Linked DNA regions of Homo sapiens: region 1 is linked to region 2. Evidence: fine-mapped QTL for protein levels in blood plasma. A gene starts in region 2. The other region holds a variant in brackets. All regions are shown on one strand. Distances are from middle to middle.

What was found. PIP is the chance, under the fine-mapping model, that this variant and not a neighbour inherited with it causes the effect. Protein levels are from antibody-based Olink assays in UK Biobank. Linkage for the fine-mapping came from a reference panel and not from the study's own genotypes, which makes the PIPs less certain.
Region 1: its variant is fine-mapped to the plasma level of the WASF1 protein (UK Biobank, PIP 0.98).

Annotation. Positions count from the first base shown.
Region 1 is chr6:110,396,753-110,402,131 of GRCh38, reverse strand. All of the region lies in intron 4 of DDO (D-aspartate oxidase), which reads left to right. Among named protein-coding and RNA genes, the nearest start is that of DDO, 16 kb to the left of the region's middle. The variant T/C (reference allele first, on the strand shown) is at 3,126.
Region 2 is chr6:110,176,299-110,181,677 of GRCh38, reverse strand. WASF1 (WASP family member 1) reads left to right here and starts at 2,008. Exons shown (of 11, transcript NM_003931.3): 1 at 2,008-2,239; 2 at 2,936-3,080. CDC40 (cell division cycle 40) reads right to left here and starts at 1,251. Exons shown (of 15, transcript NM_015891.3): 1 at 1,045-1,251. The coding sequence starts at 1,233. RefSeq lists silencers at 1,979-2,088, 2,329-2,648.

The DNA.
Region 1 (5,379 bases), 220 kb before region 2:
CTGTCTTTGTCTTTTATTACATTTACAAGCTTGAATAGTACAGACCAGTTGTTTCATATAATAGAATGTCCCTCAGTTGGGGTTTGTGTGATGTTTCCTCGGGATCGGATTGAGGTCCTGCATGTTGGGGTGAGAATGCATAGAAGTAATGTTGAATCCTTATTGCATCATAGCAGGAGGAAGATGATATCAGTTTATCCCCTTATTGGGGCTGTTAACTTTCATCACCTAGAATGCCAGTTATCTCTACTGTGAGGTTACTACTTTTTCTCTTTGTAATTACTAAATATTTTGTTGTGATATACCTGAAACTATGTAAATATCCTATTCCCATGAAACGAGTTCCTATGAAAGTAGTACTTTCACCTACGAGTTTTAGCATCCATTGATGATTTTTGCCTGAACTATTTATTACTGTGATATTTTCCAAGTGATCATTTTATAACTCCATCTATATAGTTTGCTTTCTACTGTAAAGAAGTTTTCCTTTTCCTATATGTATTTATATCAGGATGAACTCATTGGTACCTATTTTATTCAATGGATTATAATTTATCCCCCCCATCATTTTGATGTTCAAATTGTCCAAGATTAGCTGAGTAGGAGCCCCTTCAAACTGCTCTTGTGTCTTTTTGATATGTTCACTTGATTTGCTTTTTTTTTTTTTAAAGCACTTTTTTACTTTGGGGCACAACAAAATTCCACACACCCCAAATTTGGAGAAGAAAAACATTTTCTTTTCATGAATATTTTCCACCACCTTTCCCTTAACACAAACCTGCTGCAATGCCACAATTTAAATTTATGAATTTAGTGCAGAAAGAAATTGTCTTTTCTCTTTTCCTCTGTCCCCTGAAATTTTCACTCTGTTGCAATGTAAATCCTGATTTGAGGTGTAGCTAAAGAACACACCTCTACCACAACCACCTGGAAGTCCAAGTTGACATTTAGAATTTCTAGATTCCTAAGAGTCCTGCATCTTCACATGGCAGCAAAGGGGCCCAGGAGCATGCCGGGAAGCACCCTCGCTCTATCCATATCTTCCCTGAAGACAGTTGTCCTTGGCCACTCCTTGGGCTCCGGGGTGCACACAGTGGCACAGTCTGCCCCCGGGAGGAAGACAGTGCAGGTCCTGGAAGAGGACAGGGAATATGGGGATCCTGGGTCCCCAGAAGACGGGCTGGAAGTGAAGGGAGAGGGCTCTGGCTGGGCACATGCCCGAGCCCCACACACTCACTGCCTCAAGAAGAAAGCATGGCTGGAGAAGGGCCAGACAGGGGTCCTCTGGGTGCCCAGCTGAAAGAAGGTGCGGCTCAGATGAGCCAGAGTAAGTTTTGAGTCCTAGTGATAGCCTTGAGCTTATGGGTAATCAGGGAAGGCGGTGTGAAGCGTTTCTTCACAAACTTTCTCGGGCCCAAGCTTTCATTGAAGCATTGGCTCTAAAGTCTAGAAGTGAAATGCAAATGCTTAACTCCTCCTGGGAGAGAGGGCTCATTGCTTTCATTTTGCTTTAAGGGCCAAATTGTTGATAAGGCCCTGGGGAGATGAGGAGAGTTCTGATGGGGCAGGGAGGGGGCATGAAGGCCCAGGGCACCTGAAGAGGTGTCACTGTAGAAGGGGGCAGAGGCAGGGACGCCAGCCTCCCCCCAGCACACAGTCACCTCCTCTGAGGAGTCCTCATAAGTCTCCCAGTTGGCCTGGTGCCGCCCTGCCTCGTGGGCAGCGTCCTCCTCTGCGGGGGCTGGAGGTCCCCACGCGGGCCCGTGATGAGGCGCCAGTCCCCGCCCCGGCCCGCTCCTGCGCACCCTCCCAGCTCCCACTACTCCGAGAGAGAGTGTTTTAGCTCCGGGCAGCCCCCGTCATTTCCACACCGAATCAAATGTTATCTGAACAATGTCTTCTTCCTGCTTCCAAAGCATCGCCTTCTAGAAGACAGGCCCCGTAGTTCCATCATCTCTGTGTTTTCAGACCTGACCCCTGACTGCGGCAGGAAGGCCTGGGTCAACCCTGCCACCCCGTCCTGGGCTGCGGGCCTGCGGTCAGCATTTCCCGCCACTTAAAATGACCCCCAGCCAGGGGGCTTGGGGCTGCGAGGACGGCAACGCCATCGGCCGGAGACCGGCGGAGGGGGCGGTGCCTGGGAATACGCCGCCTCCCGGCTGTGGGTCGGTTATGGGCAGCGGGGAGGAGAGGACCGAGGGCTGCCCTTTTACCCGAGTCCTGGGGAGACCTTCTTCAGTCCGTTTGTTTGATACGCGTGCCCGCCAGGAAGGCGGCTGAGATGTGAGTGCCTCAGACAGAAGGCACAGGGTGTGCTGCGGCGGGAAGACTTCAGAGCCTCTGCTCCTCACTCCCTTGTGCTCCTGAGACCTGGCTCCCTCCTGACCCCGGTGTGGGGCCTCCACAGACAGCGCCCGGTGGCCCCTGGCCATGCAGATTAGCTCCCTGCAGCCCGGAGCCTGCGTCCGACCAGGCTGGTGGAGGAACAAGGCCACGTGTCCCCTTTCCTCCCTCAGGAGGCTTTGCAGCACGGGACTCCTCTCAGCCCAAGTCCGGCCTTTCAGGGCGAGCATTTCAGGCGGGGTGGGCGGGAGGGCCGCGTCCCGGTGAGGGGGCGACACCTGGGGCTCCCTCTGGGCTGCCACCCACTGACCTCCCGCCAGGCGACCCACATGGGACGCCACACAATCTCTGTTTGCTCCTCACACTCAGGGTCTATTTTGTTGCCACCTACGCCTCTTCCACACAATGTGAGTGTTCAGCCTTCAGTGTTCTCACTCAAAAATAAGCATTTGCTCAGCAAGCCACACAGCAATGGCTTCAGCTTAAGCACGATTCTTCTGAAATAATACAAACTTCCACAAAAAAATTTTGTGCTACAAATTAGATCTTTATTATTTTTCAAAAGATAGAAGAGATCATCTTGTTCTCAAACAAAAAGTAAAACAATAATGCCCAATAATATACAGAAGAAACACAAACAAAAACCCCACAGAGTTTGAATCACCCACACAGGTCATATTTCATATCATATTCTGCCAGTGGAGTTAAATTCTGCTGCTTTATTACTGGCTCCTTCCAGGAAATGAGTCAGCGAGGCATTAAGTCTTCCTCCAGGCAGCCCA[T/C]CTAAATCAATCCTCCCAGAGGGACCAGGATTGTCCTGCCTTTGACAACATTCAGGAAACTGGGTGGCCCATTTCTGTGCTGGGCCCTGTAACATGGACACGTTGATCTCTTTCCAAGAGGCCATGCCTTATCCTGTGTCCCCAAGGAGGCCCTATGCTGACCGCAGCACTGGCCACACTGAGCTACTTGCCCTGTACTTTCCTCGCCCCTCCTCTGATTAGGCCTCTCTGTAACTTTCTCTGGGGGAGTCCTCTAATGCCCATCTTTTTCTTCTCCTGTATCTTGTGTTCTCCTGCTCGGCCTGACTCACAGCAATGCCTGTGAAAGAAACTGGCTTCCTCAGCACCATCATTAGCCCCATTAGCCAGCCATGTCTGCCCTGGAGCTCACCAGGAGCTCGTCTTTTCCCCTGTCCCCGCTGCCAGCCACAGGCTGTCCGCATCACAGCCCCCACCTCCCTGTTTAGTGCTACCTGAGATTCCTTTCTCGCCATGGCTTCAGCTTCAGTGGAGTATGGGAATTGCCTCTGATTCCAAGAGCAGAGAGGGGATGAGGGGACTCTGCTCCTGGGAGGCCAAGTGTGTGTGTGTGTGTGTGTGTGTGTGTGTGTGTGTGTGTGTGTACGCATTTAAGATTTGCTTAGTGGACCCTTATTTTCCTCAGGGGCACAGCCAACTCAATTTACCTCCTTGCTGAAACTCCCAGTGAGGTGAAGGAAAGGCGCTGAGGATGACCATCCTCCTTGTTTGTGGGTCAGGTTGATGCAGTCCAGCAGAGGGCTAACTTAAGCTTGGGGAAATGGACACTCTCATGTTTTAGGGTGATGACCAGAGGATGCTGGGGCTATTTCGTGAGCCCTGCTTCTTGAGTGCCCCTAACCCTATTTCCTCATGGGAGGTTGGGACAATGGTATTCTCTCTCTCCAGGATGAGGTCTTGCTCAGTTGCAAGAAGCCCCAAGAGGAAAGTCATCATGCTTCTTGTACCTCCAACCATGTCACCCCAAACTTCCAGAATAACTACCTCATATGGTCATAAAAGCAGCCTGGTAGGCACTTGGTCACCTAATTTAACATCTGACTTTTGGGTACAGTTTCCTCCTATGCACTGGTGCCATCTTATGCATTACCCATGGGATACATAATAATGACTGGGCATCACTATGTGGTTGCATTACAACAACATAAAGGTGACCAGTCTCCAGGCACATTTAGTGAGTTTTCCTCTGGGATCCAAGGCCTGGGAGCAATCCAGCACAGGAAGCCTGACAAGGCCCAGCCACTAGGATAGCTTAAGAAGTCACCAGGCACAAGTTGGACTTTTATCAGTAGCTTGACCAGCAGGGAACCCTTGAAATGGAAAAGAAAAGACATTTGCACTTATTGAATTCTTGCATAATCATCATAAAAACCCTATAAGTTAGGCATTCTTATCCCTAGGAAACAATTTCAGTGAGTTTTAAAAATCTGCTGATATCCCAAGGCTGGCAGATTCTCTTATTCCCCCAAATTATGAAAATAATTCTGAGTTTTAATTAATTAGGATATCTAGAGCACAGAACATAATGTTCAAATATTAACACATGGAATCTACAATGTAAGAATTTAAAAAACCCACAAAATCAAAATAATATTCAAATAATGATCAGTTAAAACTTTTCAAAATTGAAATATCATCCTTAATGAAACATAAGTGATATACAGGTATGGAGGATAAGAATACACATAGATAATGCACTGGGTCTTGTATTTTACAGTAGCATGAAAAACCCCTAAGCACTTTTTTAAAAATAAAAGGTCTTTATTGAGCAGCTATAGTGTGTTAGACACAGTGTTATGCTTTTTCCAGATGTGTCTCATTTCATTTTCACAACGAGCCTAGAGAGTCAGTATTACTACCCCCATATTATGGATATAAGATTAAAGTTTAGAGAAGTGGAATAACTTGGCCGAGGTCATATGAATGGTAAAGGGTAGAGGCCTCCTAAGCTCTTTTTAAAGTTCTTTTCTTCGTGTTCACTTTTTGGAAGATTATAAACACACAGAAACATGCTGCTCAGTATTACTACAAAACTCCAATTTACTTTTCTTTCTATGCCAATGTTAAGGGGAAAAACAACCTTTACAGTTATTTTACCTTTAAAAACATTTATCTATTATTACATGTTTAAGAACATAATTTAAGCTTCTAAATTGGTTATTCTTACTGAGAGAGCCAAAAACAATCTGTCCCCATAAAATTTGCTATATTTAGT
Region 2 (5,379 bases):
AGAAGACTCAGGAGGTTACTGGAGGGGCTTAAGTTTGGAAAGTTTTGTTTTGATAGGAAGTTAGGAGGATTCTAAGCATTCTTTCATGACAGATGTCCATTTTTAAAAAGTAAAATTCACATACAGCTTGTTAAAAACCTGTAAAACACTTCTTAAGTCATTAAACTAGACTTGGGGACATGATACAAAGGAATTTTTGGACACCGCCTCCCCTCTTCACATCTTGAGCTGATCACCTACCTCGGGCTCTACTGGGCCTACACTACCAATTGGTAGATGCTCTCATCAGGCTCCAGACACATCAGCTTTTCCTCAGTTCTTCAAACCCACTAGGCTCTTTGCGTTCTCAGGCTTGCCTGTCACCTCTGCCTGGAAACTCTTGCCTTATTAATCAGCTTCCTCCATTGAGATCATGCAGCTGTTTCTCAAATCCAAGGCCTTTTTCTCACTGTATTAACACACACAATCATAAAACATTTACTGCACTCTCACTAGTTGGCTCTGTGCTATATGCTTTATTTGTGTAATTTCACTCAATTTTCACACTCATCTTTTCATGTAGACAGATGTTTTGAAAATGATCTCCACTGTACAGGTGAGGAAAGAAAGGAGGCTGCATAACTTGTCCAAGTTCACACAAGTGGTGGTGCCAGGATTAGAACCTAGTTCTTCAAAAATAAGACAAATCGAGGCCACTGCTCACACAATACTCTAGTTTGGGAAGTCCTGATCTAATTTCACTTATGTTCCGAGATTACACCTGCACTTTCCAGGCTATGTCCCTAATCCACAAATTCAAATTTCATCCCCTCCTTCCACTTGCTTTCTGATGGCGGGAGGCAAGGGCAGAGAGCATCGGAGGGCTATTCCGAACTTCCAATTCTGCCTCTCCCGAGGATGCATGTGGGAAGGAGAAGAAATTCAAACGTTAGCAACTTATCTCTGAGCACTGAGAAAGAGGTAACCCGGTACCTAACAAGCGGCTGGCAGTTCTGGAGCTGAAGCCAACAATTCCCACACTGCATTAGTAGCAAAAGTGCTTACCTTAACTGCCACCTCCGGAGCCGAGTCCACTGCCACTGCTAGAGACGGCTTTGATGAAGGCGATTTAGTCAAGTGCATGAGGGAGTCGGCGGCTGGCAGCGGACACCGACTGCTCTCACTGTCCGAGTCCGATTCGGACCCTGAACCCGAACCATAGGAAGCGGCCAGAGCTGCAATCGCAGCCGACATGACGGCAACAAATCTTCTGCGGAGACCCTGCCAGGGCGGAAGAAGAAGAGGCTCCCAGGTCCTGACAGATTGCAATGGAACACATCATTAACTTTCTTTGCTAAGAAATAATGTCTTACATTTTGAAACAATAAGCTAATTATTATTAGAATAACTACTGTCGAGCTGAGAGCTTAAAAAAGTTTATCTAGGGAAAAAGGGAGAATTATAATAGTTTATAACATTTAGGACCTAGTTGACTAAAGAATATGAGTTCCAAAATACCTTGAGGCCTCGCGGTCCTGCACTCCCAGCGTGCAGCGCGGCAGGAAGCGCGAGAGGGCACAATGGGAAGTGTAGTTTGCAACGAGGGGGCGGAACGGGGGCGTGTCCCCCTTTGACCCCGCCCCCGAATGGATGTTCCATTCAATTGGCTATCATCTTCCCTCATTCCCTAGCCAAGCAGTGTTCTCTTCGTCCCCCTCCCCCAAACTGAGGATTGGGCAATACCACAGAACCTCAGGAAAGGGGGGAAGAGCGAGCTTCGGCCCCACTAATGGGGGAGTGGGCGGAGGCTGGATTTCCCACCTCGGCTGCACCTGGGCACTGGAGGCTGAAGAGGAAAGTGAGAATCTGAAGTTTTGAGACCTCTGACTGGCCAGGAATAGCTCCTGGGGCGGGGGGCAAGGATGGGACCATAGGCGGAAAGAGTCTCGCGGTCCCCCCTGCTTCTGGCGCGGGTCCCTGCGCCCGGTTGTGGAGCGTCTCGCGCGGGGAGGGGGCGGGGGGAACGGCAGCTCGCGGTGTTGTTCACTCGCGCGTCGAGCACACGGTGGGTCCGGCGGCGGGTTGGCGCCCCAGGCGGCGTTCCCTGTGGCCTGGCGCCTGGGCCGCTGCCCTGAGCGGGTTCCGCCCCAGAGCCCGACCCTCCTGGGGGCTCTAGGCGGAGTCCCGCGAGCCGAGGGGGACCGGCGACCGCTGCCGAAGCATGAAGAAGGGGTAAGGCGTGAGCCCCCAAGATTTCACGGTGAGCGCGAGTCCCTGAGGAATTGCTTTTTTCGGGGAGGGGGTGTTGGGAGAGGAACTCTTCCTTACTGGCCGGAGCAGACCGAGTGGTGTGTGGCCCGCAAAGGTGACGGGGATGGATGGGCGCGCCTTCCCCGCCCCGGCCCCCACCCCCATCCGCGGGTTTTCCGAGCGCCCACCGCCCACCCGCCAGCGGGGCTGGGTGCCGAGGGAGACGGCGGCGGGCGCGCCTGGGGCTTGGCTGCAGGGACCGCCCCGGGGCTGCTCTCGCTGGAGAGACTGTGGGTGTCACCTGAGGTGCCACCGCCCGGGCTTCCCTGCCCACCCGCGCCCGCGGTCCGCCCCGTGCCTCTTTCCGGGGGAGGCGGTAGCCCCGGGCGACAGAGAATCCCCTGCTCGCCCTACGTGCGCGAGGCTCGGTAAAGCGAGCTCGTGCGTTTGCGTGTTTGCTCCGCGAGTCGGTGTCTGAAAACATAACGGTAAAGCGAGTGCGGGCATCCTTTTCTTCGTTGGAAGGGGAGGCGAAGCGGTGCTGTCGCTTCTGGTGCCTGTTCATGGGGGCTGCCTTGGGCAGAGTTACGGAGCCGCTCACTCAGCGCTCATGTCGGCAGGACTCGCCCATTGTGCCACCCAGATAATTATTCAACTATGCAGCATCCATTGCACCTTTCCCATTTTTCTTTTCCCCTTGCTACAGCATGCCCCCTAGCTTCGGTACTCTGACACCTTCTCTTGCACTTGCGGATGATGAACTGGAATAACGATGAAAGAAAGCACATCCGATCTCAACATTCACGTCCTGCCCTATAACCGATTAATTAATTGATCCCCAGCTAGACTAGGTACTTAAATACGACTTACTCTAATCATTTCCTTTTCTATGTAATAAGATGTGCGGTGGATTCGACTTAAATTTTTTCTTTGGTGTTAGATTCACGATTAGCTAAGGTCTTTTTTCTGTTCACTAATTGATGTAATTGACTTATTGGTTATTCAATCCGTCTAATGTTCTTAAATTTAAATTTGCATGGTAGGTAACATTCATTTTTCTGATTGTTCATAGCATTATATCATAATTAGAAATGCAGTCTCAATTTGAACTCTCAGGAACAGTTTATCCTTTATGCTCTAAGTTTCTGTTAGGAAACATTTTTGTTTATATTGAATATTTGAATGAAGTATTTGATATAAAATTTCGGAAGTTTTGAATAAGAAAAGTTTTGTATTTGTTTTTCGGTAGCAGAATATGTCATTACTAATCGTTGCCTTCCATTGAATGGAAGGATTTAATATTTAAGATGAGGATTTTAACCATCATATCAGTCATTCCCTAATTTATCTGATTTTATTTTTTATTCACTTTTTTCTTTGCAATATCATGTATTTAATTACTTGTTTTAGAATCCAGTTTTTTTTTTTCTAACTTGAATCTACAAGTATGAGTAGGCTTCAGTTTTGCGTGATCTACCTGAAGGATGAAATTTTTTTTTTTTTGCAAATATAAGAAACCACTGTTGGTTACTTGATTTTTATGTTAAAAACTGTTTACATCTCATTATTTAAAAATAAATGATTCACTATAAAAAGTAAGTGTTGTATTTTTATAATTTTCCTTTTCCATCTTTCCTTGTTTAAGCTTGTTGCATTTACCCTTTTGATAAAAGAGAATCACATAAGCATTGCAGAGGCAGTTTTAAGGTATAGTAATTGTTTTATGGCACTTGGAAGTGGCGTACATATAATATAAGTTGATGGTGTAGGATTAGTTGCTTGGTTAGGAAATGACCTTGCAATTTACAAAATGGACACCTTTGTGCCTTGGTTTCCTTATATGTAAATGGAGATAATATTTAGTAGGTAGTGTGCATAAATTCAGGAAAGGTGTGTTTTTGTAGTCCTTTTAAAGAAAATTTAAATCTTTTAGCTGATGAATGATTAAAAAATTTCTGTGAAAAATACAATGAAAAAATGTCAGGATTTTCCATGGCATATTAGAATGGCTGATTAACATTGATTTTTGCTTTGGAGAGGTATGCCTCTGAACTGAAAAATGTTTCTCATCTATCAAGGGTTTTAAATAATTGCAGACATAAAGGTTATTACAGTTAATACCTACATATAGTTAAACATATAGATAAAATAGTTAATAGTAAACAAAAATTATGACTTGATAATAAGTAGAATATTGAATTAAGTTAGTGAAGAATAATATATTCGAAAAATATTAAGGCCCTTTTTGTTACAAATTTGCAGGTGTTACAATCCAAAATACATAGTTGTGATCATTTATAAGGTATGCTATAGAGTTACTTTATTACTCATGTTTGTAAATATTCATATATTCAGAGACAGTTTTAATATTGTATAAGACTATATTTAATTATACATTTTGCTTTATTTTAGGAATAACTTAAGATATCTTTTCCAAGTGTTGGATTTTCATTATCACAGTACATAGTACCTTGTGATTTCCTTATTGGACTACTATCAAAAGATTATGTTATTAGCACTTTTACCAAAACAGTGCTTTTGGTTACTTTGTGAGAAAACTTCATATAGATAAGACTATTAAAGTGTGTTTAAAGTTACTATTGTATGGTTTCGTTTTTGAGAATTTGTTTTATAATGTTTTCTTAAATGAATTAAAATTTAGCTGACACCGTCACTTGGGTAAATGCAGTAAAGTCGTGGTTTTTCTTAGTTCTTTGAGGAGAGAAACTGACCTGCAGCTTATTGTCATAAATCCAAAGTTGTTAGTATAGTGTTTAACAAATAGCAGGGGCTCAATTTTCTTTGTTGAACAAATAAAATGAATGGGTAAAGAATATCCATTGAATTAATATATTTAGTGAAACATTTTTAAAGATTTATCAAACATTATAATTAATGAAATGTATAACTTTATCTCAGGAGAAAAGAGAAAAATGAATTTCAAGGTTCTTTGAACTCCATTTACCTGCTCAGATATAATTCCATTACCTGTACACTTTTGAACTGGCACTAGATACTTAATAATGTATATGTTAGTAGTCTTTGATTTATGAAATATTAACAATTTTCTTCTTATAGCTCACTTTATGAAGATGTATGTTAACATATTTTTTGTTTTTCCTACACTAGATAGAAGTGTGTTTGATTCTT